Regions from separate parts of the Homo sapiens genome. Here region 2 is linked to region 1. The links come from fine-mapping of genetic effects on plasma protein levels. Region 1 holds a variant in brackets. A gene starts in the other region. All regions are shown on their reverse strands. Region 1 overlaps UBR1 (ubiquitin protein ligase E3 component n-recognin 1). Region 2 holds the start of CNTN3 (contactin 3).

Evidence for each region. PIP is the chance, under the fine-mapping model, that this variant and not a neighbour inherited with it causes the effect. Protein levels are from antibody-based Olink assays in UK Biobank. Linkage for the fine-mapping came from a reference panel and not from the study's own genotypes, which makes the PIPs less certain.
Region 2: CNTN3 starts here. The variant in region 1 is fine-mapped to the plasma level of the CNTN3 protein (UK Biobank, PIP above 0.99).

The regions. Positions count from the first base shown.
Region 1 is chr15:42,985,160-42,988,778 of GRCh38, reverse strand. All of the region lies in intron 35 of UBR1 (ubiquitin protein ligase E3 component n-recognin 1), which reads left to right. Among named protein-coding and RNA genes, the nearest start is that of TTBK2, 66 kb to the right of the region's middle. The variant C/T (reference allele first, on the strand shown) is at 2,251.
Region 2 is chr3:74,611,589-74,617,111 of GRCh38, reverse strand. CNTN3 (contactin 3) reads left to right here and starts at 2,453. Exons shown (of 23, transcript NM_020872.3): 1 at 2,453-2,721. It overlaps LOC105377166 (a long non-coding RNA gene), which reads right to left and starts at 3,309. Exons shown (of 3, transcript XR_007096257.1): 1 at 3,221-3,309; 2 at 665-839.

The sequences.
Region 1 (3,619 bases):
AATTAACTTTGATCATTCATTCTTAAATTCTTTTTTTCACTGATGGCCCAGAATAATTTGACTTGTATGAGGACTATTAGTATTTCAGTGTATTAGTGTGGCTCATGCCATTTGGTCTGGTAATTTTTTTATGTTGATCTCTTTTTAACTATGATTGTGGCCATATGCAACATAAGTTAAAAAAAATATTTTTAAAAAGCTGGGCACGGTGGATTATGCCTGGGAGGCTGAGCTTTGGGAGGCTGAGGTGGGAGGATAACTTGAGAGCAGGAGTTTGAGACCAGCCTGGGCAATACAGCAAGATTGTCTACAAAAAATTAGCCAGGCGTGGTGGTATGCACCTGTAATCCTAGGTAATCAGGAAGCTGAAGTGGGAAGATCATTTGAGTCCAGGAGTTTGAGGCTGCAGTGAGCCATGGTTGCACCACTGCACTCCAGCCTGGGCAACAGAGTGAGACCCTGTCTCTAAAAAGTGTGTGTGTGTTCACACACACACACACACACACACATATATTCCTTTAGTATCTATATTAAAGGAACAGCATGATGTAAGTTATAGAGGTTCAAGGAAAAAAGAAAAGAATCAACTCAGAAGTGTTCAGTAATTTTTCTTTCTTTTATAGTTTGAGAGAAGAAGTGAGGGGAAACCAAAGTCACCTAAAAATTAACGGAAAGGGGAAAGGAAGACTGAGGCAGTTTAAGAGAGATTAGCAGGCAGAAACCAGCTCTAAAGGGAAGCCTACTATCAAATTCTCTGCCATATTGAAAATTTTGCACAGAAAAATGTAGCAGTGAGGGATCACTTAGATTTTTTAAGTTAGTGCATTTGTTCGTTATAGGGACAAGGTGCAATATTACATGGAAAAAATTAAGAATGGTGATTCTTCCCTATCTTTATCCAAGCCAACTTTGATTTCCCTTTCAATATATATATTTTTGGTAATTGTTTTTAATGGAGTCCATTATATTTTCTTCATTTAAATGTATTTTTGTAACAAGACACTTATATTTCATAATTTGAATTAAGTAGCATGAAGCCATATTTTTTTTTTTTTTTTTTTTTTTTTGAGACAGAGTCTCGCTCTATTGGCAGACTGGAGTGCAGTGGCACAATCTCGGCCACCACAACCTCCGCCTCCCAGATTCAAGCAATTCTCCTGCCTCAGGCTCCCGAGTAGCTGGGACTACAGGTGCACGCCACCACGCCCAGCCAATTTTTGTATTTTTAGTAGAGACGGGGTTTCACCATGTTGGCCAGGATGGTCTCGATCTCTTGACCTCGTGATCCTCCCGCCTCAGCCTCCCAAAGTGCTGGGATTACAGGCGTGAGCCACCACACCCGGCCTTGAAGCCACATTTTTTCCCAAAGCCTTCCTACATACTATCATTAGTTTCTTAATAGAGTTTAAGAGTCGCTTTCAGTGCCTTGGCAAAGGCAGGTTCCAGGCCACGGGCACCTGCCCTTAGCAGACCCCCTACCGGTGCCCTCAGAGGGCTCCTATGAGTGGGTTCATTGGCCTTGGCCCAGTGAGCCTCCGCCTACATTGATCTTAAGCCCATAGAGAGGGCCCATCCCGGCTCTGCCCCTGCCGGGATCCAGTTGCTGCCCCAGGGGGACTGATGGGCAAAGCCGCCCCTGTGGCTAGGCCGTGACCATCCTTGTCAGAGCCAGACTGCGGTTGGACATCTTGGGCCGAGCCCAGCACCATGCAGGGGCATGGGAGCTGAGGAAGCGCCGCTCAGGAGCTGGAGTCACCACTCCACCGTGTGCCTTCCAAGGATACCCAGGGGGTCAGTGGGCTGGCGGCTTCCTGCTGCTCCCTGTCAGAGTCAAAGCACAGATCCTCAGGGTGGGCTCAGGGGCCGAGGCAGCCCAGGGAAGCTCCGGGTGGGGACCGTGTCTTCCTGGGGTTGGTGCCCTCTGGCCGGGACCCTTTGCTGGCCCATGGTCCCCGGGTACTGCCGTGGCGTGGCCTCCCACCTGTCTGCCTGGTGGAGGGAGCTGTGGGGGTGGGGATGTGACTGAATAAAGCCACTGTGGGTGGATGTGCTTGGGGGAAAAAAAGTCACATCCAAACCTGTTAGACTTAAATCATGGGTATAGGATAATACATCAGTTTATATTTGCTATGATTCAATCAAGTGGGATATAGGAAAGGTGAGGTTTATATAAAATAGAGTCTGAACAAATTGATAAGAAATGTAAAGCATTCTTGTGGAGTCATGACATGCTAAGTCTCTTCAGACTTT[C/T]AGTGAAGCTATTTCACACTTTACTATTTTGGGGAAGATAAGCATTAGGAAATCAAGAATTTATATTTAGACCTTGAACATTAAAAAGGGGGCACAGTCTGTTATAAAGGAGATAGGAAATTCACTGCTGATAGAGCTGAATCTTTTCATATGTGGTTCTATAATCTAGTAATTGGATTCCATTTGATTAATATCATATTGTGTTCACTATTGTGCTTTTTCTATCAAGCAGGCATAATGCTCTACTTTATTCTTAGTACATAAACAACTAACTTATCTCAGTCCCTGTGGAGATGGAGAGATATGTACAGAATGCATTGGCATAGGATAATAGTTGAGGAATCAAAACAAAGCGTCCTTTGAATTACTGTTTATGCAAAGATGAAAAAAAATGCTTCCACACTCGTATCTGCTGCTAAGGATCAGTGAAAATAAGAGTAATTTAGGAATAAATACCATGGACAACAAAACACAAATCTGTGATTTTGGTATTTTAATTTTCTCTTTTTCTTTCTCTTTTTTTTTTTTTTTTTTTTTTTGAGACAGGGTCTCACTTTGTTGTCCAGGCTGGAGTGCAGTGGTGCAGTTATGGCTCACTGCAGCCTTAGCCTCCCCAGGCTCAGGTGATCCTCCCACCTCAGCCTCCTGAGCAGTTGGGACCATAGGCATGTGCCACCACGCCCAGCTAATTTTTGTGTTTTTTGTAGAGACAGGGTTTCACCATGTTGTCCAGGCTGGTCTTGAACTTCTGAGCTCAAGCAGTCCTCCTGCCTCACCCACCCAAAGTCCAGGGATTACAGGCATGAACCACTGCACCCGGTCTCATTTTCTTTTTTTCCTATTGATCTTTTCTAATTCTTTTAAAATTGTACCCGAGGTCGGGCGCAGTGGCTCACGCCTGTAATCCCAGCACTTTGGAAGGCTGAGGTGGGCGGATCACCTAAGGTCAGAAGTGCGAGACCAGCCTGGCTAACATGCTGAAACCCTGTTTCTACTAAAAATACAAAAATTTAGCTGGCGTAGTGGTGCACGCCTGTAATCCCAGCTACTGAGGAGGCTGAGGCAGGAGAATCGCTTGAGCCCAGGAGGTGGAGGTTGCAGTGAGCCGAGATCGCGCCATTGCACTCCAGCTTGGGCAACAAGAGCGAAAGTCTGTCTCAAAAAAAAAATTGTACCCAAAAGAGCAATGAAGTTGTTTGTATCTGCCTTACATATTATTTTTAAACAAAATAGGCTATAATTACATATATAAATTACTTATTTTAGAAAATTTTGCATAAAAAAGATGCTGAAATGAGAAGAAGCAGTCCAGGCTGCTTTGTTTTTCCCAAGCATTCTTATAAGATTGCTGCAGGTGCTTTATTTTTTA
Region 2 (5,523 bases), not on the chromosome of region 1:
CAAATTTACTGCAATTTAATTCTGATGGGGAAAAAGCACATGATTTTTATTTATAGCAGCGTGCTCTATCTATTCCTGTCTCCCCCAACCTCTTTTTAAAACATAAATAACCCCGGAATTTTTTGTAATCCAGCTATTACTCTTGTAGGGATGAGCAGTTTCCTGATAAAGTGAGAGAGGGCAAATGTGGCCAGAAGTTCCCTAATGTATTCAAGAATCCTGTTGTATGCTCATAGAGTAAGGGGGACTAGGGAAAAATCACCTGGTCAAGCCATTCATGCAATTTCTTTTTTTGTTATTGTTGTTGTTCTGTTTTGAGATAGGGTCTTGCTCTGTCACCCAGGCTGGAGTGCAGTGGTTCAATCATGGCCCACTGCAGCCTGGACCTCCCAGGCTCAAGCGATCTCCTCCTGCCACAGCCTCCCAAGCAGCTGGGACTGCAGACACACACCATCATGCTCAGCTAATTTTTAAATTTTTTGTTGAGAGGCGGTCTCACTGTATTGCCCAGGCTGGTCTCAAACTCCAGGGCTCAAGGGATTCTCCCACCTCAGTCTTCCAAAGTACCAAGCAACTTCTTTGTGGCAATTGGAAATGCAGGGGGCCTACATGCTGACTTTGCTGTAGGGAGCGGCACCTTGCATCTGACTGACCTGGGTCTTACCTCTTGTCCTCAAACCCCCTCTAGGAGAGTTTTTCCAGAAGTTCAGATTTCATTCTGAATTGCAGAGGACCACGCACGTATCTCTTGAGAAAATGATCAAACGTGAGAAAGTGCAGTTAAACCAGGCCTGGTTTGCCCAGGTTGCTTCTCTTGATGAGGTGTTGCTTCATTCCATCTGCAGGAATCACAGGGAGAGGATCAAGGAGAGGAAACAGGGCCATAAACTGTCAAGTCTAATTAAATGTGACTAGATTATTTAATATGAAGGGACAACGTGATACATTTTAAAAACAATGTCAGAGAATTATAAAATGAAAAGTATAAAGTCTCCTCTGCTCCAATTTCAGTCTCACTCACTAGGACTAACAATTGTTAACAGTATCCTTAGACATCCTTTCAGAAATTGTGAATGCATAAATATGGATACATACACACAAAAGGGTGCGTGCGTGTGTGTGTGTGTGTGTGTGTGTGTGTGTGTGTGTAAGTGCTTGTAAGCACAAAAACGGTACAGGTACCAACTTTCCTGTGCCGATCAACAGTACATGTCCCAAGTTCTCCTAACAATACCGTTTATTTATTTTTTTATTTATTTAGAGACAGGGTCTCCCTCAGTCTTTTGGTCTGGAGTGCTGTGGCACAATCATGGCTCACTGCAGCTTCCACCTCCTGAGCTCGAGTGATCCCTCAAGTGCTCCTCCCACCTCAACCTCTCAAGTAGTTGGGACAACAGGTGCGTGCCATGACGCCCACCTAATTTAAACTTTTTGTTTGTTTGTTTTTTGCAGAGACAAAGTCTCCCTATGTTGCCCAGGCTGGTCTCAAACTCCTGGGCTCAAGAGATCCACCTGTCTTGGCTTCTCAAAGTGCTGGGATTACAGGAGTGACCCACCTCCGCCCAGCCTCTAAGGATACCTCTTGGAGGTCATTTATGCCAATACTAGTAGATGCACCTTTCTCTCTGCCGCTGTATGTCTCCACTGTATTTTATCAGCCACTCTCCTAATGAAGGACAGGTAGGTTGTTCCCAACTGTTTTTCGTACAACTAAAGTTGCAGTGTTTGCACGGGTTTGACTGGAAGTAAGTCACCAGCGGTTCAGCGCAAAGGCTCAGGACTGCAACAGGCTTATTCAAGTCCGGGTTCTCCAACCCACCACTGTGTGTATACTTGGGCAAATAAAGGTGGTAAGATCTACTTCACAGGGTCCTTGACAGAATATAGTTGCGATTATTCTCACAACTGACTCATTGAAACTTTAAGCAAACCAATTTCCTCATCACTAAATCCGGGAATAATAATAGATCCAGGTTGCTCTGGGGACTGCATGAACTAATTGATTTAGCGCAGTCCACGACCTGCTACCTAGTGAGCCCTTAATAATTATCCGCTTTAATATTAAAATTGGCAATCTTTGCGCACTTGTGGGAGCGCAGCTGCAGGAGGCTTTTCTAGAAGTGGAATTCCTGCCTTAACCCCGTGTTCCGAGGGCCCTAACTGCGTGGCACGAGGCCACCCGGAGGTGACACGGTGACCGCCGCCCAGCCCGCGCCGCCGCCCAGGGCCCTGCGGAGGCCGGACACACGTGGGTGCACGCGGCCGAGCGCAGGGCCGCGCGGGGTCCGGCCGGCGCAGAGGCGCTGGGGGCGCCGCAGACGCGAGGCTCGGGACCCAGTTGGCTGCTCCGCCGCGCTCCCCGCCCCTCCCTCCCTCCAGTCCGCCCGGTCTCCCCTCCCTCCAGCGTCCGCGTCGGAGCCGGAGCCGGAGCCGGAGTGGCGGAGGCACGGGCAGTGCTCGCTAGGCGCCGGCAGCAGCCACAGCAGCCTGGCGCTTGGCGGCGGCGGCGGTGGCAGCGGCGGGCGGGCTGGCGCCGTGGACTGGGCCGGGAACCGTGCGGACGAGGGTGCTGCGCCTGCGGCGGCGGCGGCTTACGCGGGCGCGCACGGCGGCCCCCCGGGCCCGGACTAACTGCGGCGGCGGCGGTGGCGGCGGCGGCGGCGGCGGCGGCGGCGGCGAGTGGGCCGTCGGGGCGGGCGTCTGGCGAGCTGCAGAGACCAGGTAAGTCCGGGATGCCCGACTCCTGGCGCCGGCCGGGCCACAGGGATGAGCCACCTGCCAGGGCAAACTTTACGCCCTGGCTTCATGGCTCCTCAGCCCCGAAGTTTGTTTGCAGGGAAATGCACCTGACGGGTCGAGAATAAAAGATGCTTCTCTCATCGGACTTGCTCTGGGGAGATTATTTTTCCCCTTCTGGGGCGAGGATTGGTTTCGGGTTGGGAAGGCTGCATCCCCAGCTGGAGCGCTGAAAATTGAGTGGTAGGTCCCTTGGGCTTGCCCTTCGCGCAGTGGATTTGACCAGTTAAAGTTGGGGGAAAAAAGTTGTGACTCCTAGGGATGCTGAGGAACAATTCCAGGTGCATGATGCAGAATGTGGGAATGTGATACCTCTTTGCTGGAACCACCCCCCAGGCCCAGATTCCCAGGTCTGAGAAAGCTAGGGTGGCCGATTCTTTCATTAGCGATCAAGTTTTCTAAGCTGCATTTTCTTTCTACTCACAGATCAGCAGCTTGGGACGGAGTTCCCCGTCGCGTTTATTTGTCAGGTTTACCCTGCTGCGCTGTAGTCCAGGTTTCCTGAGCTCGGACCCTGGTTTCAGCTGTTTCTGTGTTCTCTGAGGAGCCTGCAAAGCTAACCAAGCAGGTAACAGAATAGCAGAAACAGAAAACCAGGAAGTGCCAACCGGGCACCGGGGTCATAGCACCATCAGGAATTTTTTCTGGTCGCGTGAAATGAACGAACAGCTTCTGGGCTCTGCTTGTGCAAAGCTCCGTACAACTCTCCAATCCGTATGTCTTTCCCTGTATTGCATTTGCTTATTGATTTACAACAAGGAGATGTGTCCAGAGGTATTATTTAATAACAAACGGTGTCCGCTACGGTAAGGACAGCAAACCTCCTTTCAGAGGCAAAGAAAGGGGAACAGAGCTCTGGGAAAGGGGTAGCCAGTCTGCTAACCTCAACCCAAGATGCAGGGAAACAGAGCTAGAAAAAGCAACAGACAAGGAGGGCGTGATGTGCAGGAGGGAGGTCAGAAACCCCAGCTCATATGGTGAGTAGGTAAATCCAGAAATAATTTTAAAATGATTAAGCAAGAATAACTAAAAAAAAAAAAAAAAAAGTAGGAAGACTGTACGTGCTGTGGTTTCTGTCTACCCCCACAGAGATGAATATCACACTAGCTGAAAAAGAATCCTGATCTGTAAATAGATTAAAAACAGGAATTAATCAGAACAATGAGTCAGAGCCCTTCAGAGATTGAAAGGAGGAGTAATTGCCTTTGAAAGAGCTTATATCTCAATATCAAGTCAAATGTGTTACTTTTGCTTTGCTAGATGTGTTTACTAACAGTAACCTGACTTTGGCTGCAGTAACCTGGCATCTTGGTTCATGGTTTTAACCATTTGTGGGTCATGGGACTAGGGAGAAAGTTGACTGCAGGTTAATATTCATATCAATTTGTGCAACATTTGTAAGATGCCTAATACGTGCATGTCACTGGTTGCAATGGGAGAGGTCCTTGTGAATGTTCATTAAAGAAATCTGATCGGGTTCAGCCTCACTAAATGGAAGGATGTTGGCTTGCAAATAATAAAGAGTGGGGTTGGGAATTATTGGTCTTTGAATACTTGCTTGAAATTAGTTGAGAGTAAACATGTGGTTTGAGGACCCCCAAAATGATCAGTATCCACCAGGGAAATATAGCAAATTGCTGTACACTTTTATAAGATGAATAGTAAGGCTGAATGCATGCAAGTGGCCCTTCTGTCTAAAAGTAGGATAACCGAGACACCGAGTGTCTAATTGATATGCAGGGTAATAGATTCAGGCTGTGGCCGCCACAGACAATAACATTCAGCCTCATGTCCTCCTCACTGTCTGGATGTCATTAATGTCAGCCCGAAGACATGAAGATGTTAAGTTCATTTCTCCAGGAGAACTCTAACTTTTAAATATTCTTCACAACACAACCAGATAGCCCAAGTGTACCTTAAAATGGCAACAAAGCATTTAATAGGAGCAAAGTGCTGAGCACTTTCAAGTAGAGAGAAGATTAGCCGTGGACAACAAGCTGTAGCCTTTCCTTTGCTGATTTATGTTCAATTTTATCACTGTCACATTTCATATATGCCCAGTTATTACAAACTAATAGCCTCTTTTCTCTGCTTGCAAAATATGCATCTTTCTCTTTTACAAGTTCCTAACTCCTTCTCACACATTCAGTACACATCTTCCAGCTTTGTTTTTACTGCAAAATTTAAGTGTCCAACTTGAAGTTCTCATTAACTCTTAATATGGTTCATGCTGAAATAGTATATAGATATAATTGCTGCTTCCAAACTGTCAGATCTGTATATCGCTATACTGTGGCAATACTACAAAACAGAGAAGCTTTGACTGGTTTCCAATCACCAGTTAGTAAGTTGTTAGCAGTAAAACTAATGTTAATTTTATGTAGTGGAATATATTCAGATGGCAGGAGGATTTATTGATGCTGTGCATGTTTGCCTGCTGTCTCTGATTTAGTTGTCACCACCAGTCTGCCTTTAAGCCTTCTTATCTTAGCAAGGTACTTTGTCTCTATGAAGGTGAGCATCTTTAAGGTGCTCACTTGTAGTTTTTAATATGCACACATGCATATGCATATACTTTTAACATGCATATATAATTAATCACTTAATGCTGGTGGACAGTTTCCTTTCTTATGCTTGAAAAAAGTGCAATGGAGAATATCATTGTTGCAAAGATAGTTGGCAAGAGAATATGGGGCCACGGAACAGTTTAAGATAGAACATTTCTTT